2 linked regions of the Homo sapiens genome follow. The protein of the gene in region 2 interacts with the protein of the main gene of each other region in a pairwise test. Each region holds a gene or a part of one and is shown on either strand. Other genes may lie near its edges.

What was found. The genes of interacting proteins can lie anywhere in the genome.
Region 1: the proteins of RAB11FIP3 (region 2) and RAB11B interact in a two-hybrid assay, tested with the Homo sapiens proteins (one study listed by BioGRID).

What each region holds. Positions count from the first base shown.
Region 1 is NC_000019.10:8,393,254-8,396,999, reverse strand, and holds part of RAB11B (ras-related protein Rab-11B), read right to left. Parts: intron 1-3,746. UniProt on the Homo sapiens protein: The small GTPases Rab are key regulators of intracellular membrane trafficking, from the formation of transport vesicles to their fusion with membranes.
Region 2 is NC_000016.10:498,560-502,305, reverse strand, and holds part of RAB11FIP3 (rab11 family-interacting protein 3), read right to left. Parts: exon of another isoform or gene 2,319-3,746; intron 1-2,318. UniProt on the Homo sapiens protein: Downstream effector molecule for Rab11 GTPase which is involved in endocytic trafficking, cytokinesis and intracellular ciliogenesis by participating in membrane delivery. Recruited by Rab11 to endosomes where it links Rab11 to dynein motor complex.

The sequences.
Region 1 (3,746 bases), on a different chromosome or scaffold from region 2:
AGAAGGGAGGACGAGGGGTGCACCCCACCATGTCTCCCTGGGCGATTCCATTCCAGACTCTCAGACCCTGGAAGGTATTGTCTGTGCGGTCCCTGTGTTCACGCTCATCACCAACCAAAACGCTGTCCTCCTGCAGCAGCCACCAGAGAGCGCCCGTGAGTGCCGAGCCAGGGCACCTCCCTCCCTCCTCTGCAGACAACCCTCCGTGGCCCCCACCTTCCGCAGGGGAAAAGCCACAGTCCTCCCCGCTGCCCACAGGGCCCTCCCCTCCTCCCTCCCGCCCCCCCCCCGGCTCACTCTGCTCCAGCCACACAGGCCTCCATGCTGTTCCCCCAACACGCCAGGTGCGATCCTGCCTCAGGGCCTTTGCACGGGTTGCTCCTGCTGCCAGAAACGCTCTTCTCCAGGCACACACCTGGCTCCCTCCCTCATCCCCTTCGTGTGGCCCCTTAAATGCCACTTGGCCAAGAAGGCCCTCCCTGCTATGCTACTAAAACTCTACTCTCCGAATTACCCTGCTCCCGGACCCAGTTCTTCCTCCGTCACTCTTGCCACTCTCTCACCTGTCAGGTGGCATTTATCTTTTGCCAGTCTGCCCCAAGGGCAGGAATCAGGTCCTGGCACAGTGCTTGGCACACAATAAACACCCAAGAAAATGTCTGTCAAGTGAACAAACAAAATGCCAAAAAGGCTGGCAGAGCCTCCCACGCATGCCGCCTGCCCCATACCTAGAGGATGCCAGGTCACCACCCTTGGGCCACAGGTGAGGAGGGCAGGATCAGGCAGCCCCTACAACCCCACCTGGTACCCGCTCTGGTTGGCTGCTTGGAAGCCAAGAATAACAAGAACAAGGAGAATATTCGATGAGCTTGTGCTAACAAAGCTCTTGATGTGCGTTACTTCGCAGAAGCCTCCTGTAGCCCATTTTTACAGATGAGGAAACTGAGGCTTGGATGGGGAACGGGGTGCGGGGCAGAGCAGGACCCTGAAGCTATGCATGTTTGTGGGCTCGCCCTCACCTCCCAACGGTGCTCCCCAAGTGACTTGTCTGGAGCCACCGCCTGGGAAGTGAGCCAGGCAGGATTTGAACCCAGGTCTTCTGCATCCACAGTCCAAGTTCTTCCTTCGCAACTCACTGCCACACTCACTGTCCTACCCCAAACCCCAGCACGTGGCTCGGGAGTCGTGGTTCTGCCTTATGGGGTGGGCATTGAGGCTCTGGGCACCCCAGCTCCCACCGCATAGGGCAGCCTGTCCCCCTGGGGCGGCCAGCAAACTCCTACTCATCCTTCAAGACCCCTCGGCTCAGACCTCTCCTCTCCCCAAAGACCACTGCTTGGCCTGGCGTGAAAGACCTAAGACAACGGGGCTGGCATTCTCTCACGTCACCATGGGTGCCCCGCACAGGGCTACCAAGTGGACTTCAGAGAAAGACAGAAAGATGGCCGGGTACAGTGGCTCATGCCTGTAATCCTGTAATCCCAGCACTTGGGGAGGCCGAGGCAGGCGGATCATTTGAGGTCAGGAGTTTGAGACCAACCTGACTAACATGGTGAAACCCCGTCTCTATGAAAAATACAAAAATTAGCCGGGTGTGGTGGTGGAGGCTGAGGCAAGAGAATCATTTGAACCTGGGAGGCGGAGGTTGCAGTGAGCCGGGATCGTGCCACTGCACTCCAAGCTGGGCGACACAGCGAGACTCCATCTCAAAAAAAAAAAAAAAAAAAAGAAAGATGGAAAGAGGTGGAGTGAATGTAGGCGTGTGGCCCAGCACCTCCCAACCAAGCCAGTAGGGATGAGAATCGGCTCCCAGGCCACTGGGGGCCAAGATGGACTCACTGTGAGGGCCCCCATCTACACCACCAACCTTAACCTCCTTTCCACGGCAGCTACGGGAGCCTGGCCAAGGCCAGGGAGGTCTGCTCAGTTCTCACGTCCTCAGGAAATAAGACAGGAAACTCGGGCCCTGCCCAGGCATTCCCGACACCTTCACACCATTCCAGCCTTGCCCCAGCTGTACAGCCTTAGTGGCTCCTCAGCCCCATCAGTTTGTTTGTTTTTGTTTGTTTGTATTGAGATGGAATCTCCCTCGCCCAGGCTGGAGTGCACTGACACAATCTCAGCTCACTGTACTCTCCGCCTCCTGAGTTCAAGAGATCCTCCTGCCTCAGCCTCCCGAGTAGCCGGGATTATAGGCGTGCACCACGACGCCCAGATAATTTTTGTATTTTTAGTAGAGGTGGGGTTTTGCCATGTTGGCCAGGCTGTCTCAAACTCCTGACTTCAAGTGATTCACCCACCTCGGCCTTCCAAAGTACTAGGATTCCAGGCGTGAGCCATGGCACCCAGCCCCATCAGTTTTGCCCTCAAGCACTTTGGCCAGGCTGGGTCCCCAGTGCTTTGCAGGCCTCAGCTGTCCACATTCTCAGGGCTGCCCCAGGGACAGATGTAAATATTATCATTCTCCCTGAACAGCTGGGGACACTCAACCCAGAGTGACCAAGTCAGAGCAAAGGCCAAATGGCCACTGAACAGATCAATGACAGGCCAGGTGCAGTGGCTCACGCCTGTAATCCCAGCACTTTGGGAGGCCAAGGCGGGTGGATCACTTGAGCTCAGGAGTTCGAGACCAGCCTGTCAACATGGCGAAACCCCGTCTCTACTAAAAATACAAAAAATAGGTGGGCATGGTGGTAGGCACCTGTAATCCCAGCTACTCAGGAGGCTGAGGCAGGAGAATCATTTGAACCCAGGAGGCGGAGGTTGCAGTGAGCTGACACTAAGCCACTGCACTCCAGTCTGGGTGACAAAACAGGTGAATGGCAAAGAGGCTGAGCTGCCCAACCAGTCCCTGGCACTGGGTGCCCGATGCAGAGAGGTGGCCAGCGGGGCAGTGGCGGGCTGGTCCAGGATGCAGGCTGGGGATGAAAACTTCATTGTCTAGGACACAAGCAATCTGTTGTCTTGGGGAAATAAAGAGCCCTTGAGGACACAGCTCCGAGCATTTCCACAGAAGTTGGTGGCTTCACTGGCTGGGAAGCGACCCCCCTACCCCAGACACGCCACTTGGCTGACAGAGCAGGCAAGCCCGGTTGGCAAAAACAAAGAACTGGCACCTCTGAGAAGTCCTAGGTGCCCTGGCCTGCCCCATGACAGTGTGGTGGCCCTGGGGGCCCAGACCCTAATGCTCAGGCAGACTGAGAGACTCTTCAGGGGAATGGTGCCCCCATTCCGGCAGAGCCTGGCGGAGCCAAGCAGTGCCCCCATCCCTCCCCTGGAAGCTGGTCCTAAGCATCCTAGGCCCCAGGGACCGGCACTGGGGGCCACTCTTGTCTCAGCTCTTCTATGGGGAGGTGTACAGAGCCAGGGCACTGGAGGGACCCCCATTCTAAATGGGGAAGATGGTATGTTTGGGTCCCCAAACAGCAACTGGAACAGCAGGCCCACTGTGAGGTCTGCCCAGGCTTGAGGGCTGGGAGCTGCCTCAGGAGCCTCAGCACAGAAAGGGAAGCACCAGGCAGGCCCCTTCCCTGGGGACAGGGGCCACCTTGTCCTTGGGCAGGGGAGGGGTGGACAAGACCCAGAGGACAGGGCCTGGGGCAGCTGCGGCCCGTTTCCCCCACGACCCATGTCCTCCAGGGCCAGGTGAGCCCTGATTGGCCAGGGCCTCTAGGGTAGGGGAAGGGCTCTGAGAGGACCTCAGTGGCCCTTGGGGACACAGCTGCAACCATGGAGTACCGAGTCCA
Region 2 (3,746 bases):
CATAGGCTGCGGCCTTGGGGCAGGAGCTTCTCCAGGGAGTGTGAACTTAGGCGCGCAGTAAGCGCGTGCTTGTGGTCACCACGTGGTCAGATTCGCTGTGGTGAATCTGTACCAACCCAAACTTGCCGGGAGTACAGAAAACTCTCAGAGCACTCGCACAGAAGAGCCAACAGCAAAGGTGCGTGTTCAGTTCTTTATACATCCTGGGAACCTCAGTACCAAGCCAGGCTCCAGGCTGACAGCCTGATGCTCAGAACTGCGTGACCGTTAAAAAGCACTGGCCCTCTCCGAGCTTCCTTGCCTATGAAATGGGGGGACCCTCTCCCAGCCTCCTTGCCTATGAAATGGGGGGACCCTCTCCCAGCCTCCTTGCCTATGAAATGGGGGGACACTCTCCCAGACTCCTTGCCTATAAAATGGGGGGACCATCTCCCAGCTTCCTTGCCTATGAAATGGGGGATCCTCTCCGAACTTCCTTGTCTGTGAAATGGGGGGACCCTCTCTGAACTTCCTTGCCTGTGAAATGGGGGGACCCTCTCCCAGCTTCCTTGCCTATGAAATGGGGGACCTTCTCCGAACTTGTCTGTGAAATGGGGGGACCCTCTCCCAGCTTCCCTGCCTATGAAATGGGGGGAGCCTCTCTGAACTTGTCTGTGAAATGGGGGGACCCTCTCCCAGCTTCCTTGCCTGTGAAATGGGGGGACCCTCTCCCAGCTTCCTTGCCTATGAAATGGGGGACCCTCTCCCAGCTTCCTTGCCTGTGAAATGGGGGACCCTCTCCGAGCTTCCTTGCCTATGAAATGGGGGGACCCTCTCCCAGCTTCCTTGCCTATGAAATGGGGGGATCCTCTCCGAGCTTCCTTGCCTATGAAATGGGGGGACCCTCTCCCAGCTTCCTTGCCTATGAAATGGGAGACCCTCTCCGAGCTTCCTTGCCTATGAAATGGGGGGACCCTCTCCGAGTTTCCTTGCCTATGAAATGGGGGGACCCTCTCCCAGCTTCCTTGCCTATGAAATGGGGGTCTAGAGGCAACTGAGGTTTAACCAAGGTCATGCATACAAACAGCTTGGCTAGGGACGTAGCAGAGTAAGAATTCCATAAAATGTTAATATTTTTCCACTGAAAATGTCTACCAAGTGTATGAAGTTCGATTTGCTTCTCAGTACGGACTGGGCTTGAACATTTCCATCTTTTTCCCCATAAACGCTCTGAGGAGACAAGCCCTGTGAACGTGCACCAGCTGGAACACACCGGTGCCCTTCTGGGGCTCTGGGGATTTCATCAGATTCTCAAAAGCTGCTGCTGATACAGATCATGTTCTTGGCCAGTCGCTGCTCTTAAACGCCCATGACCTTGCCCCCAAACATGAGCCACTCCAGGCATGAAGCTGCAACCCAGAGCCCATCCTGAGAGGCCACGACCTGTCAGCACTTCTGAGCTGTCCTAGAGGCGTAGGCACTTCTGGGGCTGACTCGGGGACACAGCCATCCCCAGGCACCCAGCGTGCAGCCACCACACGTGGCCACCAACGTGAGGCAGAGGGTCCTCAGCATGGGTCATGCGGCTGCTTATTTATTTACTTATTTAATTTTTTTTTTTTTTTTTTTTTTTTTTTTTGCGACAGAGTCTTGCACTGTCACCTGGGCTGGAGTGCAGTGGTGCAATCTCAGCTCACTGCAACCTCTGCCTTCCGGGTTCAAGCCATTCTCCTGCCTCAGCCTCCCAGGTAGCTGGGATTACAGGCACCTGCCACCATGCCCAGCTAACTTTTTGTATTGTTTTTTTTAGTAGAGATGGGGTTTCACTATGTTGGCCAGGCTGGTCTCAAACTCCTGACCTCGTGATCTGTGCGCCTCGGCCCCCCAAAGTGCTGGGAGTACAGGCGTGAACCACCGCGTCCGGCTGGGGCTGCTTATTTAAATCCCCTAGAAAGAGGGATTCTCCAGCTACACCACACCCTCACTTGGAAGGACCCTCCTCCCAGAGAGGGAGCTGTGGAAAAAGCCTGACCTGCCCCACAGGGCAGTAGGTCGAGCCTGGCTGGTGAGCAAGGAGGTACGGGGATCCCTGAGGCCTCCCACCCAGGGCCCAGGGAGCCTGCCTGCTGTGAGCACTTCCTCCAGTCCTGATGGACTCGGCTCTGCCCGGAGCCCCCGGTCTCTGCACACACAGCTGACTGGAGAAAGCCACTTCCATCTCATGGACAGGGACAGAACAAGGCTGAGGGAGGTGAGCAATGCAGCCAGGCCCGGGGGCTACAATGGCTGCTGGCAAAACCCACCATCTCAGCAATAGTTCAGCGCGAAGGGCTGAGAACTGTGAGAAGCGAATCGCGACGTTTATTTTGCTCTTCCTTAGCCTCTTGTGGCAGATTTGGGGCAAAACAACAGATTAAATCTTGTGTACATATATTTACATGTGGATAGACACACTGCAGAAGAGGTCTCTGTTTTGTAAACTCTAACGACAGATAACTGCAGATGGAGCTTTTTTTTTTTTTTTTTTTTTTGAGACAGTCTTGCTCTGTCGCCCAGGCTAGAGTGCAGTGGCGTGATCTGGGCTCACTGTAACCTCTGCCTTCTGGGTTCAAGCAGTTCTCCTACCTCAGGCTCCTGAGTAGCTGGGATTACAGGCATGTGTGCCACCATGCCTAACTAATTTTTGTATTTTTAGTAGAGACGGGGTTTCACCATGTTGGTCAGGCTGTTCTTGAACTCCTGACCTCGTGATCCACCCACCTTGGCTTCCCAATGTGCTGGGATTACAGGCGTGAGCCACTGCGTCCGGCTCAGATTGGGCTTTTTTTATGCCAAAGGGTACCCGTGAAGGAAACATTAAATTTTAAAGGGTGTTTCTGACACAAGGCTGTGACAGCCAACTGCAGGCTGCGCCCCATCCTAGGCACGGGAGGCCTCAAGCAGATGCCTTAGCTGGCCTTGACCGGTCTTTCATGTCACCAGCTGCAGCCTGTCTGGAGTAAAAGACTTGATGAAGCGGGGAGGAAGGTGATGCTGAAGTGGTAACAGAAGTGTAGCTGGGGATGCACGTCACGTTCCTAAGAGCTCAATGCTTCTCTTTTTCTTTCTTTTTTTGAGATGGAGTCTCGCTCTTGTTGCCCAGGCTGGAGTACAATGGCACAATCTCGGCTCACTCCAAGCTCCGCCTCCAGGGTTCAGGTGATTCTCCTGCCTCAGTCTCCTGAGTAGCTGGGATTACAGGCACCTGCTAACACACCTGGCTAATCTTGTATTTTTTTAGTAGAGATGGGGTTTCTCCATTTTGGCCAGGCTGGTCTTGAACTCCCAACCTCAGGTGATCCACCCACCTCAGCCTCCCAAAGTGCTGGGATTACAGGCGTGACCTACTACGCCCGGCCAGCTCAATGCTTTTCTGAAAGGGGTGAGCAAGAAGACAGTTAGAAAAAGATGCATGATGACGTTCACCTCTGCTTCCTCTAGCCCCTAGCCCCTAGCCCCTAAAATGACAGAAAATGGAAAACAAGTGGGACGCGGTGGCTCCTGCCTGTAATTCCAACATTCTGGGAGACCGAGGTGGGAGGACTGCTAGAGCCCAGGAGTTCAAGACCAGTCTGGGCCTGTCTCTACAAAAAATTAAAAAATCATCTGGGTATGGTGGCATGCGCCTGTGGTCTCAGCTGCTCGGGAGGCTGAGGAGGGAGGATCATTTGAGCTTGGGAGGTCTGGGAAGTGAAAACTATTGAGAGCTGTGATGATGTCACTTCACA